2 separate regions of the Homo sapiens genome follow, and region 2 is linked to region 1. A link means that fine-mapping ties the variant in region 1 to the expression of a gene that starts in the linked region. Tissue or cell type: neutrophils. Region 1 holds a variant in brackets; the other region holds the start of a gene. All regions are shown on one strand. Distances are between the middles of the regions.

Region 1 (8,000 bases):
ATTCCTTTTGGATCCTGGTGAGTCCTGAGGCTGCATGGCTGGAAACCCACACCTAAACTACAATGCCAGGTATCTCCAGGGTCTCACTTCCTGGCTAATCAGAACCCTTGGCCACAGTGATTGGCAGAGGAATTGACACATGTCTCAGTGACAGTCGACAAGACTCAGTTTTGGGAATGTTAATTAGAACTGTAGGAAAAAGTGAGTCCCTGTTTCCGCTGGGAGTTGATAAGAGAGTAGGATGTGAGCCACTGCTGAGGGCAGCCATCTTGTCATCATGAGGCCAAGAGGTGAGGCCAGCAGGGAGGGAAGCGGTCTTCAGAGATGGAGTAAATGAGACTGAATCCTAATGTCATCATCTGAGCTCCTCTTGGAGCCATGCCTAAAGCTAGCTCTGCCCCTGTACTTTGTAGTTACACAGGCTCTGTGTAACTCAATTGGCTCTGGCCAATTCAGGTTGGTTTTCTGCGTTTGAGCCCTGATGCTCCGATGGGGCAGACCCTGTGCCCAGAGGCTTGAGTATTTGGAAGGGGCAACTCCCCACATCTCATCCAGTCTCCAGCAGTCTAACAGGGGACACCTTCTCCTGTCATGAAACCACTTGTGTCTGTCAGAGGGCATGGCGAGCCCATGAATACCAACAGAAGCAGCTGCATGCCAGCAAAGGAGCAAAGCCCCTCAAACTAGCTGTGTCTTCTCGGGCAAATCACTTTCCCTCTCTGAACATTGATTTTCTCACCTGCAATATGGAGGTGATGTGGGAATCCTAGCACCTACCACATAGAATTGTGAGAATCACTCAGATAATGCTGCAAAGCACCTGCCACCATGTCTGGCACATAATAAATGCTTAGCATTTGTTATGGCTGGCCGTTCCCAGAAAGCTGTTTGGATGAGGTGATCTCTGAAGATCCTGGAGGAGTTGGAGGTAAGGGTCAGAGTCGGCAGCAAACCTCACTTGCTTGCTTCCGTTTGAGCAGCATAAGACCAGGGGCTGCGTTTTCTGGAGCAGCCTGGTAGAATGGAAAAGACTCAGCCATCACCTTGGGAGGCCTTGGTTCTAGTCCTGATTCTGCTGTCAAGCCGGGTGAGTGGCTTTGGAGTGGGTTTGGGCATGCTGCCCCTCACTCCCTGCCCGCCCCGCCCCATCCTTAATGTGCCCCTTTCAGAAGCAAGAAAGCCACAGCCTTTCTCCTCTGCTTTCTTCATAGAGCCAGGAGAACCACACCTTACTCAATATAGTGTCCCCAGTACTCTGCCCTGAGCTGATACAGCATTCCAGAATGTCCATTTTATGAGTGATTAAAATGTGGTCATAATACCTATACCTGACCTTCTGATTTTTTTTTTTTTTTTTTTTTTTTTTTTTTTTTGCCGGATTCTCACTGTCGCCCAGGCTGGAGTGCAGTGGCTCGATCTCAGCTCACTGCAACCTCTGCCTCCCACGTTCAAGTGATTCTCCTGCCTCAGCCTCCGGAGTAGCTGGGATTATAGGCACCCGCCACCCTGCCCAGCTAATTTTTGTATTTTAGTAGAGATGGAGTTTTGCCATGTTGGCCAGGCTGGTCTCAAACTCCTGATCTCAAGTGATCCACCACTGAGCCCTGCCTTTTTTTTTTTTTTTTTTTTTTTGAAATGGAGTCTCTCTGTCACCTAGGCTGGAGGGCAGCGGCGTGATTCAGCTCACTGCAACCTCCGCCTCCTCGGTCCAAGCGATTCTCCTGTCTCAGCCTCCTGAGTAGCTGGAATTACAGGTGCCCACGACCATGCCCGGGTAATTTATTTGTATTTTTAGTAGAGACGAGTTTTGTCATGTTGGCCACACTGGTCTTGAACTCCTGACCTCAGGTGATCCGCCTGCCTTGGCCTCTCAAAGTGCTGGGATTACAGGTATGAGCCACTGCACCTGGCCCTTTTTTCTTTTGGAAACTTCTTGTTAGAGAGTAACAGAGACAGAAAAGCACATAGATCCTAAGGAGACTGCTCAATTTTTCACAACTGAACTACTCCCTCCTCCGTACCTAACCCTTACTAGCACCCAGAAGCTTCCCTGGTGCCCCTTTCCAGTCATTCCCTCCCCAAAGATAACACAAACCTAACTTCTGACAGCACAGGTCTAATTTTGCTTATTTTTTGAACTTTTTGTAAATGGAGCAATGCTTAAAGGCTTTCTAGCGGTTTGTTAAGTTACAAAAGGCCCACGAGGTATATTAACTCCTTAAATCTTTACAACAGTACAGTGAGGTGGGTAAGAATTATGAACACCATTTTACAGAGGCAAAAACGGGAGCTCAGAGAGAAGAGAACATAATCACATTGCTGGCAAGTGGAGTGCCAGGATAACTGGGTTTCATTTTTGTGTGTCCCTGGATCTTCAATGTCTCTGCAGGCATCAGGCTATGATTCTTAGGAAGACACTTGAGGAATAGTCAGGAATCGGACACCAGGCCAGGGCAGCTGATAGTTTAAGTACCCCATGATGGAGGGGGGCTCTGGACCTTCAGGTCTGGTCACCTTGCAGACACGGCCAGACCCTCCCCCCTTCACCATGCTCCCAACTGCTGCACTCAAGGAGCTTTTCGACCTCCCTGAGTCCTCCACACTGAAGAATTTGGAATGCTGCTGGAAGGAAGGAGCAACATAGAGTTATTTCCACAGAGCCCCTCCCCGCCCTCCAGGTTCCCAAACAAACTGCCCAGGAACAGATGGTCCGCTTTAGAATGACTCTGTGTGCCCAGACGCATCCAGGGCCACTCTGGGTCAGCACCTGGGCAAGGGTTGCAGTCAGTTGCTCCTCCTCTTCCTTGCTGGCAGTAGGTTCTGTTTCCAAATTCACCCTGGTCACCCACCACTACAGCCTCCTCACCCCCGTTGGCTGATAGGCAGGATTCCCCGGATCTTTCCCTCTGGCCTCACGAGCATTCTGTCTGGCCTAATGAACTCTTAGACATCCTTCAAAGCCCAAATCCCAATGCCGCCAGGATGTCTTTCTCCTGAACATACACTCATTATGCCCCCTACACAGTAGTTTCTCTTTCTCAGCCCAACCCAAATATAGATGATCACAAAAGTCACACAACAGTCACACACAAAGACCACAGTGTCACCACACACACAATGTTTTTATCTCGATGTCTCTTGCAAACTGGGTTACACACAAAGTTGTACCAAATCACAGCCATGTCCCTCTTTTGTGTGGGCACGTACAACACACGCAAACTACACCACAAAAACCCAGGATTTTTTCACAACTTGTTTACAACAGGGACACCACATTTCTTTCTACCACATTAACATGCATGTACAACAGGACCCAAAAGTGGAGATCACACATCACACACACACACAGGCAGGCTGTCTTCTGTTCCTTCCTCCTTCCCTTGACCTCACAAAACCTACACGTGGAGACAGTGTCTCTCCTGGACCTGCAAATTCACACGCCTAGAGAGCCACGGCTCCTTCTCTCTGCTTTGCTACCATTCCCTCCCTCACCCCTCTATCACGGGGACACACACACACACAGCAACAAACCCCAAATACAGCGGACACACACACACAGCAACGAACCCCAAATATAGCAGACACACAAACACACAGCAATGAACCCTAAATATAGCGGAGACACACACACAGCAACAAACCTCAAATATAGCAGACACACACACACAGCAATGAACCCCAAATATAGTGGACACACACAGAACAAACCCCAAATATAGTAGACACTCACAGCAACGAACCCCAAATATAGCGACACACAGACACACGGCAACAAACCTCAAATATAGCGGACACAGGTTGTCCTGAAGTCCCTGGACGGCAACGAATCCCAAATAAATCAGTCAGGGCTTTCCTTCACATATAAACACACGGGCACGCGGAATCCACCCCTCCCCCACTTTCTGTCTCCTCATCTCTCTTCCTCTCTTACACACACACACACACACACACACACACACACACACACACGGCAACAAACCCCAAATATACCGGACACACACACACAGCAACAAACCTCAAATACAGCGGACACACACACAGCAACGAACCCCAAATATAGCAAACACACACACGCACATATACACACAGAGCAACAAATCCCAAATATAGTCAGGACTTTCCTTCACACATAAGCACACGGGCACGCGGAATCCACCCCTCCCACCGTTTCTGTCTCCTCTTCTCCTCCCTCTTACACACACGCGCGCGCGCGCGCGCGCGCGCACACACACACACACACACACACACACACACACACAAGCAGCTGCAGCGCCCCGGGTCACACTCCAGTGCAGGAGCCAGGCAGGAGACAAAGGTCGCCGAGGCTCCCGGCGGCCCCACCGGACACAATCGAGCCTCTTCCCGGTTCTGCTAGCTCCCAACGCCGGTCTCGGCAAGGTCTGGACCCTGCGCCCCGAAGCAACAACTCCCGCCTGCTCCTGCCCTCCAGG[T/G]TCCCCGCGCAGCCCGGGCAGCCGACTCCCAGCGCGCCAAGGGTTAAGGGCCCGCGCGGGCGCGGGGAGTGCAGCCTCAGGCCGTGATTGGCTGCGCCACCCAGGCCCCCGCGCCCTGCCATTGGCCCCGCGGCGGCCCCGCCCCTCCGGCACTCGGCGCCGAAGCCGCGAGCTCGCCCGCTGGAGCTGAGCGCGCCGCCTGGGCCAGGCAGCCGAGCCGTCCGAGCAGCTGGGCTGGGAGCAGGGAACCCGGAGCTGGGAATCGGGAGCCGGGCGCGGGGAGCTGCGCGAAGCCGGGGCGGAGCACGCGAGCTATGGTGAGTGCTGCGCGCGGAGGTCTGGTCCGGTCCAGCCCAGCCTCGACGGTCGCGGGCAGCGGTGCCGCGGGTGGCACCCGGGGCCGCCCTGGCTCGCGGGGGGCTGGGCGCCGGCTGCAGCAGCAGCCCCCGCCCGGCTCTCGGAAGGCGTGGAGTCGGGGAGCGCCCGGGCAGAGCGCGGCTCTCCCGGCGGCGCTGCGCTTGGTCCCGTCGGGGGCGGCCGCGCCGAGCTTGGTTCTGGTCCCAGCCGGATGTGGGGGGCTCGGGGTCCCCGGTTCGCTTTGGGGACGGTTGCTGCGGTCTGTTTTGGGTTGTTCTGAAGTCCCTGGACTCAGCTTGGCTTGGAGACCCAGGGCAGCCGGGCTGGGTCGGGCTCGCGGGTGGCGGCGATTTCGAGGTGCCTGGATGCAGCTGGACCTGAGCGTCCCGGGACACTGAGGTCGGTCTGGGGCTCGCCTTGGGGCACTGTGGGTGGCCACGCCCGGCGCATTCGGAGGGCTAGGTTGCGGCCCTCTGGGACTGCTGATCCAGCTGTGGCCTAAGGGGTGTATGTGGTGGCGACGCAGCTAGGTCGGTGCTGTCAGAGACCAGGGGACACTCAGGGGCCCTGCACCCAGCGATCCGGTCTCCCCAGCATCTCCCGGTGATGGGTCCTCAGAGGAGGGGCTTGCTGAGGCCGAGTGCTGACTGCGATAGGCAGGAGTACCAGGGAGAAAGGGAACTGGGGAGGGGCGTTTCATGGGGCTCTCTAAAGCCCCAGAAGAGAAATCCATTTGATCCAGGCTGGGCTTCCTGGGGGGGGGCTGTTGGGAGGGGCATTGTCCCTGGACCCCAAGAGCAAAGGCCCTTTGTCCACTTGTCCAGGGCCGGGTGCCGGCCTCTCCATCACGGGAAGGGAGCCATCTACTTCTCTTTGGTTTCTTTCCCTATAGACGAGCCACTCGGATTCCCTCTCCTAGTTCTGTTCTGTGCCCTGTGAAGTGGGTCAAAGTCACCATGTAGGGCTGAGGAGGGCATGTGCCTGGGATGGTGGCTGCCAGTACCTGTGATCCAGCCCCTCCACTTCTCTGTGATGATGCTGCCAAGCCCGAGGGCGCCTGGATGGGAGCAGGATGGGACCCCCTGTAAAGCCGAAGAGTCCCACAGTGGTTCCCAGCCCCTGCTGTGCCCAGAGCTGGAGTCCCCTTACAACCCGCCCCCCCATCTCTCCCTTCCAAGGCCTCTTCTCACCCAGCTAGGGTCTTCTTTGCTTAGGCACCGCCAGTTGCCTCACTAGAGTCAGAAGTGGTGGAATTATGGCTTAGTTCTATACCTGAAGGTGCTTAGAGACCACGTGAGACTCAACCTACCTCCTCCATTAGGAATCTCCCCTGTAATGCCCCACCCAGACCGTTTCCGACACAGGGAGTGCACTATCTGTGGACCAGCACTGGATTTAAAGTCTCAGTGTATGGGCACCAAAAGGCCGTGAGACTTTGAGGTTGTATGATCCCCTCTGCCTCTAAGCCCACCCTGAGTTACTCATAAAGAAAATTTTTTCTTCCTTAAAAACCACCAAAAAAAGAAAGAGGTCCCCTCACTTTGCCTTGGTGACACTTTATAGATCCTTACAACTGAAGAAGCCCACCAGCCTATTGTGAAGAGTCCAGGCTTTGACGTCACACCAATTTGTGTTTGAACCCCATCCCCTCCACTTCCCCACAGGGACTTTGGTCTAGGTGAAGCATCACCCTTGAGTTTCAGTTTCCTCATCTGCAAGATGAGATGATAACACTTACCTCCAAAGGGTGAGATAACCCAAGTGAGAGTGCTTTGCTTCAGTACTGCTTAGTTTTCTTTTCCAAGCTTGAGCCCACGCTGGGAAGTTCTACCTAACATCTAACCTATTTGCCCCAGGGGTTGTCTCTGGAATCCAAAACAAAAGTCTGTCATCCATCTGTCCAGGGCTATGGGCTGGCTTTTCCAGCACAGGGACAGAGGCCACCTATTTGCTGGTCTGGAAGACGAATGAAAGTTTATCATGTTGTAGGGAGGAGACCGTGATACTTTCGTCTGTCATTTAGCCAGGACGTGTTGAACACTTACTCTAAGCCAAACCCCATGTGAGGGAGGAAAGAATTGACTGAATAAACAGTGTTATGGGAGCTTCCACCAGGCCATAAACGTCTGCACTGGTCCTCAGACTTTTTGGCACGTCCTTGGAGAGGTAGAAATATGCCAGGCAGGGGCTCTCTCCAAGCTGGAGAGACGAGAGAAAGCTTCATGGAGCAGGTGACATCTGAACTGGAAGGGGTGTCCCGGGAGGGGGACCTGTGTGACAGAGGAGCAGAGGTGTGAGTGCACAGGACAGGCTCCTGGAAAGGCCAGAATGGGGCTGGTCTGGCACCTGGCTATGAAAGGGTCAGGAAACAAAAGAGAAAGAGGGCAAAAAGGTTGCTGGGGCCAGAAAGTACTAGGCTGAGGAAGTCCACGGTGGATTGTTGACCGGCGGTGCATGCATGGGGTGGCGGCTGATGTCAGGCCTCCCTGGCTCCTGTCATTTTAATTTCCTCTAAACATTGGTTCCTGTGCTGTCATTCCTGAGGCAGGGGTGATTCGGGACTGATCAAGTGTTTATTCCCTGGATCTCCTGCTCCGCGGCTTTTAAACAAATCCAGCACTCACTTCTTTGCAGTGTGGCCAAGTTGTCCTTGGCCCCTGGGTTCCTAATGCGGCGCGTTTGCAGGGCGTGTGTGTGTGTGTGTGTGTGTGTGTGTGTGTGTGTGTGTATCTGTGTGTGTCTGTGTGTCTGTGTGATGTGTTTCCTGTTGTCCTCACTGAATCTCCCTGATGGTCACCAGCTCCCCACCCACGTCTCTAACCCCTTGGCAGGGAGTCAGTGCTGTTCTTAAGGGCCTCGGATGGACCGTCTCCCCCTGTTTTCTCCCAGTGCAAGCCGTGGGCCGAGGGTTCTGAGGAGGCTTTTTATGTCTCCTGCCTCCGGTTGTACTCAAACCACCCTGCAGCAGGCACAGAGAGGTGAAGGAGGTTGCCCAGGGTCACAGAGCAAGATAGTACCAGAACAGGCACAAACCTCCTGGACTTTTGGAGGGGTAACCTGGCAGACAGTTGGGGGAAGGAGACCCAACCCATCATCCCCCATCTGCAGCTGTGGCACCTTGAGAATGTTCCTTCACTTTCCAAGCTGGGGCTGAGTTGAGGCTACCGCTGAGGGTTGGGAATGCTCTTTACT
Region 2 (8,000 bases), 53 kb after region 1:
TAGCCTCTAAAGGAAGTTAGCCTACAGAGCCAGGCCCCGGGTAGGAGGCACAAAAAAAGGAGGTGAGGCCCTGAGATAACCAGGAAGATCTGGGTTTGGGCTCCAGCTCTGGCAAGCTGCTTCCTTTCTCTGAGCCTCAGTCTCTGCATCTGTAAAATGGGGATCCCAGGACTTATCCCACATGGTGATTGTAAGACACAAGAGTAAAAGAGCCTTGAGAACTGGGCAATGTCAAGGTCAATGACTCTGTTTTGTTTTGTTTTACTTTATTTTATTTTATTTCTCTCTCTTTTTTTTGTAGTTGAGACAGGGTCTTGCTCTGTCACCCAAGCTAGAGTGCAGTGGCGTGATCTCAGCTCACTGTAGCCTCAACCTTCTAGGCTCAAGCAATCCTTCCACCTCAGCCTCCTAAGTAGTGGGGCCACAGGTGGATGCCACCACACCTAGCTAATTTTTTTTTTAAATTTTTTGTAGAGACAAAGTCTCACTGTGTTACCCAGGTTGGTCGCAAACTGCTGGGCTCAAGCAATCTGCCCACCTCGCCTCCCAAAGTGCTGGGATTACAAGCATGAGCACCCGGCTGAAGGGTACATGATTTCTATTAATAACTCGTATTTGACTTCTTGCTGTTGATATTAACCTCCATCACCTGGGCAATCTGTTATTTTCACTGAGTTTACAGCAGGGCTAGAGTAACAACAAATGTTGGCTGAACAAAGGCCAAGACTGGAAAATCTGGATGAGGGCAGAAGCAAATGGGAGGGGTGGTGAGGAAGACAAGAAGAAGCAAGCAGAAAGAGGTGGCCTGCGCAGGATGTCCCTCTGGTGTGGTTCACGCAGGCTTGGGCTGCTGGATGCCAGGCAGTTCATGTTCTAGCTTACTCGGTATTTACAATGGCCCTTTTACGGATGAAGAAACTGAGACCTGAGGGTGAAAACAACATGTCCGAGGTCACATGAGCCAGGAAACCTGTGAGTGGGCTCAGGTCTGTCTTAATTGCCTGATAAATGTTGTTTCTAACTCTGTTCCACAAAGGATTCATGATAGGTTATAAATAAAATACATTCAGTAAAACGACATGCAATACCAAATGGAAAATCAGAATCACGGAAAACAGAGTGGAAAATGTGGACAAGGAAAAAGCTGAACCTAAAGGCCAAGAAAGTGCCCATAGGCGAGTTTCTGATTTGGCTATGAGTTTCCTGGCAGCCAAAGAAAAAAGAGATACAAGCTGATTCCTGTTATTAAAAAGTAAAGAAGCAGTTTACACTTTCAGGAACTTCATAGTAAATTTTAAAATAAGCTAATCACATGGAAATTTCTCTGGTGAAAAATACTGGGAAATATAATGGATAATGTAATAATAATAAATGTCAAGTGGCATATCTTTAGAAATGATAGCCATATTTTTATATCTTATCCCTTGCCCAAAGTTGTGTTACTTGGGTTTGTTTTTGTTTTTGTTTTTTTGAGACAGGGTTTTGCTGTGTTTCCCAGGCTGGTCTTGAACTCCTGGCCTCAAACAATCCTCCGGCCTGGGTCTCCCCAGGTGCTGGGATTGCAGGCATGAGTCACCATGCCCAGCCAAGCACTTTATCTATATTAACTCATTTAAGTGTCACCACAGTCCTATGAGGGAGGTACTATTGTTATCATCATCCTCCTCATTTGACAGATGAGTACTGAGGCACAGAGAGGCTGAGTCACTTGCTCAGGGTCACAGAGTTGGGAAGTTCAGACTGGGGATCTGAAATGAGGTTTAGATCCAGAGATTTTACCCACTACATTATAGCATCTGTGAAATATAAGTGTTTAGCTACCAGATAATATGAGTGTGTTTTAGATGACATGTAAAGATTGAACAGATCCCAGCCAATTACCAGCACCAAAAGTAGTAACTGATGGGGACTTCGGCCACAAAGGGCAGCGTCTCTAAGGAGCTGAGGCTTAGAGACAATGTGAAAGTAGCTGTGGAGGGTGTGGCTCAGTCCCAGGCCTCAGAATTTCACATGTGGGGCTTCCCTTTTCCACCTCATCACCCCAAGATGACTTAACAATCCCCCGCCTTTGGCCAACCAAACGCAAGAGCCATATGAGTGACTAATGTCGTCTGGGCAAAGGGGGTCATGCCCAGGTGCTACCAGGCCAGGAGGCTTTTGTCGCCAGAAACCTGTGCGTGTTTATATTTCTCGTTTCTGCTCACCACAGGCCTTTGATTTACAAGGGTGGAGTTTCCAGAGCTGGGCACTGTTGCACCTTCATCTGGCTGTCATCACTTCCTCTGTGCAGCTGGGGCACCGGGGACTGAGGACGGGGCAGTCCACAGGGAGCTGTGGTTCCACCCCTTCACTCTTGGTTTCTGCCAGGCCCTCCTCTTGAACACTAGACCCAGATTCAACCCAGATTTCTCCTCCACGGCTGCACAGTGCCAGGAAGGGAACTGAGAAGACCAAAGTGGAGGTTCTTTACCTTCCCCAACACACTCGGGGCCAGGCGTGGCACCCACAACTGCAAATGAGACAATTAGGGAGAATAAGTGCTGGCTGCCCTGTCAGCCCAGAGCCTCAGTCTGCCCAGGGCACCCAGACTCTGTGAGGTTCCCACCTGAAGAAGCAGTTCCATCTTCCACAAGGAGCACAGGACCAAGAGTCCAGGACCCAGGTTCGAGGCCCAGCTCTACCACTTTCTCGCCGCGGGGCTCGGGTTCTCTGGAGGCAGCGTAATGGAGTCAGTGGGTTTGGCAAGGGGAAGATTCGCATTATGGCTCCCTCAGTCTCCAGGCAGGTGACTCAGGGCTGGGGGGAGGTCCTTTCTCCTCTCTGACCCTTGGTCATCTCATTTGTAAAGCGGAGGTGATGATTCTCATCTCAGGGACGAGGCACTGTGGGGTTAGGAGAGAATTTGTCAAGTGGCATGGTTGGTTTTTGGTCTGTCTAGGCCCCTCCCCCTCTCTGTAAGCTGGAAGCGGTACTTGTGAGGCTGAGGCTCTAGGTGGGTGTGGGGAGCCATTGGGGTAGTGAATGGAAGGCCCTGGGCGAAGGGCCCCAGGCAGCTGTTGAAATGTCACTCACCCACTGTGGACTTCCCACCAAGCAGAGCCCGCCAAGCCTTTCCCGTCTGAGGTGGGTTCAGTTTCACTACCGGGCTGAGGCAGGCATCTCAGGAAGGGGCCCTCGGCTTTTGTGTGCTGAAAAATAACCAGGCTCCATCTCTGCTGATTTCTGCTTGGGAGTTCCGTGAGCTTCCTGCATCATCTGTCCACAGACAGGCTGCCGCAGGGTGGACATCAGAGTCCCTGGGGTGGCTTCCGGCCTCCCTCCCTTGCCTCCCGCCTTTGCTCAAACATCTGTAGAGGCTCCAGCCCCAGACTAAGCCCTTAAGGAGACAGGGTCCCGTGAGACCCAGCCTCTGCCATCAGGGTTCTCCTGTCTAAAATGCTGTGTGCCTCAGTAAAAGGCAGCATGGGGTAGGGTGGCTGTGTGGGGACACAGAGCCAGGGACCAAATGCTGTCTGGGGTCCCTGGAGGGTGGTCAGGAGAGCTTGCCAGAAGGGGGAAATCTCTGAAATGAGACAGAAGGAGGAGGAGCCATCGCTTAACCACACCTGGGCGAGTTAACTTCCCCAAGCCTCAGTTTCATTCTCTGTAAAAGGAACCAGTGATACCTGCTTCTGAGGGAAGGGTGAGAAGCTTAAAAGAGATGGTATAAAAGAACTGACAAATCCCGTACACCAGCCGGGTGAATCCCTTACACCACCCACATGCCCCGGGGAGATGTTCTGTGAACTGAACTTCTTTTTCAAAAGTCTTTTCCTCTGGCAATCGACACCTGGTAACGTAGTGTAACCAAGTGTCCTGTTCTAGAAAAAGCCCAGCTGCAACCCAGCAGTAAGTGAAGCAGCCTCAGAGTCCCCTCTCTCTCTGGGATGGGTAATGGAAACTCCTCCACCCAGTGGGAGTGAGGCAGAAGTCTCCAGAATTCAGAGCTTTCCCATGCACCCTGCCTCCCCAGGGCCTGTGACCTTTAGATGTGTTCCCTGTTTCTGTAGGCATTATGAAGTTAGATGCAGGAGAGTTCTTGAGAACTTGAAGGCACTTCCCCTCTACTTGTCCCCCCTTTGATTTTAACAACCGTTTGTTGAGCACCTACTCTGTGCCGGGTGATGGAGAGTCTCTGTTGGACAGGCCAGACAAGGTCCCAGCCCCAGTAAAGCTGTGGATTCTGGAGAGGGACAGAGACAGTGATGATAAAGACATGGAAACAAAACAGTCTGCAACAAGTACTGTAAAGGAAAACAAACAGGATGCTGTAACAGAGAATTTGGGGGACTGCTTAGGGTTCCTGGGACATTTGAGGAGCTGGTAGGCTGAGATCTGAAGTTGGAGCTGACCATGGGAAGAGTAGAGAGGAGGAAAAAATGTTCCAGATAGAGACAACAGCAGCTACAAAGGTCTTGGGGGAAGAAGAAACTTGTAGAAACTGAGGAGTTGTGTGAGGAGGTTGGTGGGGGAGGGGGCGCTGGCAGCACAAGATGAGGGCCCAGAGTGGGCAGGGGCCATGGGGCCTGGTGAAGGGTTTGGATTTCATTCCAGGACAGTGGAGGGTTTTTAAGCAAGGGAGTGGTAATATCAGAATTTTTTTTTATTTTATTTATTTACTCAGACAAGATCTTGTTGTGTCGTCCACGCTGGAGTGCAGTGGTGCAATCACAGCTCACTGTAGCCGCCACCTCCTGGCTTCAAGCGATTCTCCCACCTAAGCCTCCCAAGTAGCTGGGACTACAGGCGCATACCACCACGTCCTGCTAATTAAAAATATATAATATATAAATATATATATATATATTTTCTTTTTGTAGAGATGGGGTCCGTGTTGCCCAGGCTGGCCTAGAATTAGACTCAAGTGATCTCCTGCCTCAGCCTCCCAAAGTGCTGGGATTACAGGTGTGAACCACTGAACCCAGCCAGATTTCTGTGGTTTGTTTGTTTGAGATGGAGTCTCACTCTGTCACCCAGGCTAGAGTACAGTGGCACAATCTCAGCTCACTGCAACCTCGACCTCCTGGGTTCAAGCGATTCTTCTGCCTCAGCCTCCTGAGTAGCTAGGATTACAGATGCATGCCACCAGGCCCAGCTGATTTTTTGTATTTTTAGTAGAGATGGGGTTTCATCATGTTGGCCAGGCTGGTCTTGAACTCCTGACCTCAAGTGATCTACCCAACTTGGCCTCCCAAAGTGTTGGGATTACAGGCGCGAGCGAGCCATGGTGCCTGGCCTCAGCCAGATTTCATTTTAAAGGCTCATCCTGGCTGCTGAGGGGGCTGTCAGAGGGCAGGAGTGGAAGCCAGGAGACCATCTGGAGCCATTGCCCTCACTGTCCCTGTGACGTCAGGCCCCTCACCCCTCTAAACCTGTTTATTCACACATATGTGTGACTGTGAGAATCAAATTTGGAATGAGCAGAAATGCACTTTGCAAAGCTGAAAAGTACGCATAAATGCAGGGATTCCCGCCTTGCTAGAAGCGGAGAGTCCTTTGGAAATCTGCTGGGTTAGACCTCTCTGGGGTTCTTGGTTGGGACAGTGCTGGGCCTGAGTCCCTAACTGAACACCTCATATCCGAGAGAGCCCCCTTTCCCTGCCTAGGGTTATAGGAGAGGGCTCAGGGGCTGGGGAGGGGGGCACCTGGCTGAGGCTCCGAGTCTTGAGGGGGAAGATGGGAAAGAAGGGTCCCCTTCCTGGCTTCTGACTCCCCCTGGAGCAATGGTTCTCTTGTGTTGCAGGGAGGGCGACACCTTTGAGCACGGGGGTGACCACCGGACCACCCTGCAGCCATCCAAATGCACACACACAGCTCCTTTCATCCCGTGTCAGGGAGTTCTCTGAAATTTTCTGAAACTCATTCACGAACTCTGGCTTAAAGGCCTCTGAGCTAGAAAGGGGAACTGAAAGGGGACACCTACCTTTTTACCCCACCTTTTTTGTCTGGTCTTTCTAGCATTAACCCCCTAGACACACCTAAGGGCTGATGCCGGGGGGAACCTGTCTTGATTGCTCTGGGCCACATCGAGGGCACCTTCCTGATACTTTTGTTATCTGCCACTGGGGACCCGGTTGTTGAAGGGGGACTTAAGATTTTCTCGAAGGAGGGGTCACTGTGAGGGCCTTTCCTGCCTGCTAGGGGCTTCAGTTTGGGGGCCCCCACTCCCGACCTCCGGGGAAGGGAGGGGTCCCCATCTCCCCCGGGCCTCTCGGGTCTTGGGGTCTCCCCGGGAGGCCGGAGGTTGGGAACCGGGCGCCGGCGAACCGATCAGGCCCCGCCCGCGAAGGTGGTGCAACGCCTGGCCCGGCCCATCCCATCCCGGCCACCCGGGCAGCGGGACCAGGCGTCTGGGGCACAGCATGCGGGGCGTGTGGCCGCCCCCGGTGTCCGCCCTGCTGTCGGCGCTGGGGGTGAGGCGGGCGCGGCCTGGAGGGCGGGGGCGGGAGGCGGGCGGGACCCCTCCCCGCGCGGGCCGCTCCGTGGGCCGGTCTCGGTCTCGGGTGTCCAGGCCGGGGCGGGGCGCGGCGGCGGCGGCGCCAGGGTCGGGGCCGCTTCCCCATTCGGGCGCGAGAGCCATGGAGGCGCTGAGGGAGTCCGTGCTGCATTTGGCCTTGCAGATGTCGACGTACAAGCGGGCCACGCTGGACGAGGAGGACCTGGTGGACTCGCTCTCCGAGGGCGACGCATACCCCAACGGCCTGCAGGTAGGCGCCCTCCGCTCCCTCCCGAGGTCCAGGCGCCCCGGGCCCGGGCATGCGCGCTGCCGCTGCCGCGCCCCCCGCCCCTACCTACCCCGCCTCTTCCCCTCCCTTCCCCTCCCTCGTCCCGGCATCCGGGAGGGGCCGCGCCTCCCCGCAGCTGGAGCTCCGCGCTGAGAAGCCTTCCGGAGCCCACCAGTCTCCCCTCACCTGCCCCCGCCATCCCTAGAGCCTCCCGGCCACCTGCTTCTGGGGCCACAGCCCAGGTGGCAGAGTTGAAAGCACCCCCGAGACCCGAACTGGTCCAGTTCCCTTTCCACAGAAGGCACAGTTTGTGCATGTCCCGGGACTTGCCCAGGCCCTTTACCGGCAGAGTCTACGGCTGTTTCTGTTTTAGCGTGGAAAGCCCTGCATCCCTGGAACCCACTCCCCCAGTCCGGGGCAAACTGGGAAAGTTGGTCACCTTATCCGGGAGGCAGTACCACCCTCTTCCTCTTGCCCTCCCAATACCTGAGTTTCCTGGGGCCAGAAACCTGTTCTCTGCCCCCTCTCCCTGCCCCTTTTCCAGCCTACTAAGGAAGTCCAATTCCTCCCCTCCCCAGGGTCTCCGCCCGTGGGCATCCCATCTGCCCACTCCTGGGGAGGGCCCCACCCCCGTCCCTGCCTTGTAACAGGACATTGAGCAAGGCTGCTTTCTGCCCTCCCGTCCCTGGGGGGCTGCACTGGGACAGTTGTGGCCAAGACCTCAGTGCTGGAGGGGTTTGGAGCCAGCCAGGTGCGTGGGAAGGTGCTGGAAACGCTGCGGACACCCTAGGAGACCCAGTGATCTGGCTCTTGAGAAGCCAGTGTAGAAAGAGGAGCTGGGGCACCCCAATTCTCGGAGGACTTCTGCCAGGTAGACCAAGGGAAGTATTTGGGAGAATCTTGGGGCCACTTGGTGAACTGGCACACAACTCTTCCCAAAGGCGAGCTTAGGATGAATGGACGCTTAGTTGCCAGGCCCACTCCACTCAGATACGCCTCTTAGAAGCGGGAATAATCCTCCCAGCGCAGGGAGACACCATTGATGGAGTTCCTCCTCCAGGGTCACATAGGCCCAGGGGACCCAAACTCACAGTCCCAAGGGCTCTACCCACTGGGATGTGTGGTACCCCTGCTTAACCTTCAGGAACACCCCTGAGACCTGTAGGGATTACTGTCCCCACTTACAGATGTGGAAACTGAGGCTCTGAGAGGGGCAACCACTGGCCTTCGGTCACC

Direction of the effects. Positions count from the first base shown, and alleles are read on the strand shown. Sizes are in standard deviations (SD) of each study's normalised expression.
For the expression in neutrophils of the gene that starts at base 3,526 in region 2, G is the low allele of the variant in region 1 and T is the other (moderate effect, 0.45 SD a copy in BLUEPRINT).

The links. PIP is the estimated chance that this variant, and not a neighbour inherited with it, causes the effect.
Region 2: ECE1-AS1 starts here. The variant in region 1 is fine-mapped to the expression of ECE1-AS1 in neutrophils (BLUEPRINT, PIP 0.95).

What each region holds. Positions count from the first base shown.
Region 1 is chr1:21,342,144-21,350,143 of GRCh38, reverse strand. It overlaps a transcript of ECE1 not described here. Among named protein-coding and RNA genes, the nearest start is that of ECE1-AS1, 53 kb to the right of the region's middle. RefSeq lists enhancers at 4,234-4,283, 4,294-4,343, 5,044-5,423, 6,168-6,257, 6,808-6,857 and silencers at 4,494-4,683, 4,804-4,913. The variant T/G (reference allele first, on the strand shown) is at 4,452.
Region 2 is chr1:21,288,816-21,296,815 of GRCh38, reverse strand. ECE1-AS1 (ECE1 antisense RNA 1) reads right to left here and starts at 3,526. Exons shown (of 3, transcript NR_038404.1): 1 at 3,073-3,526; 2 at 2,606-2,882. ECE1 (endothelin converting enzyme 1) reads left to right here and starts at 6,353. Exons shown (of 19, transcript NM_001397.3): 1 at 6,353-6,452; 2 at 6,660-6,746. The coding sequence starts at 6,402. RefSeq lists enhancers at 1-245, 1,950-2,109, 1,449-2,648, 3,490-3,579, 7,348-7,909 and silencers at 6,272-6,451, 6,502-6,671.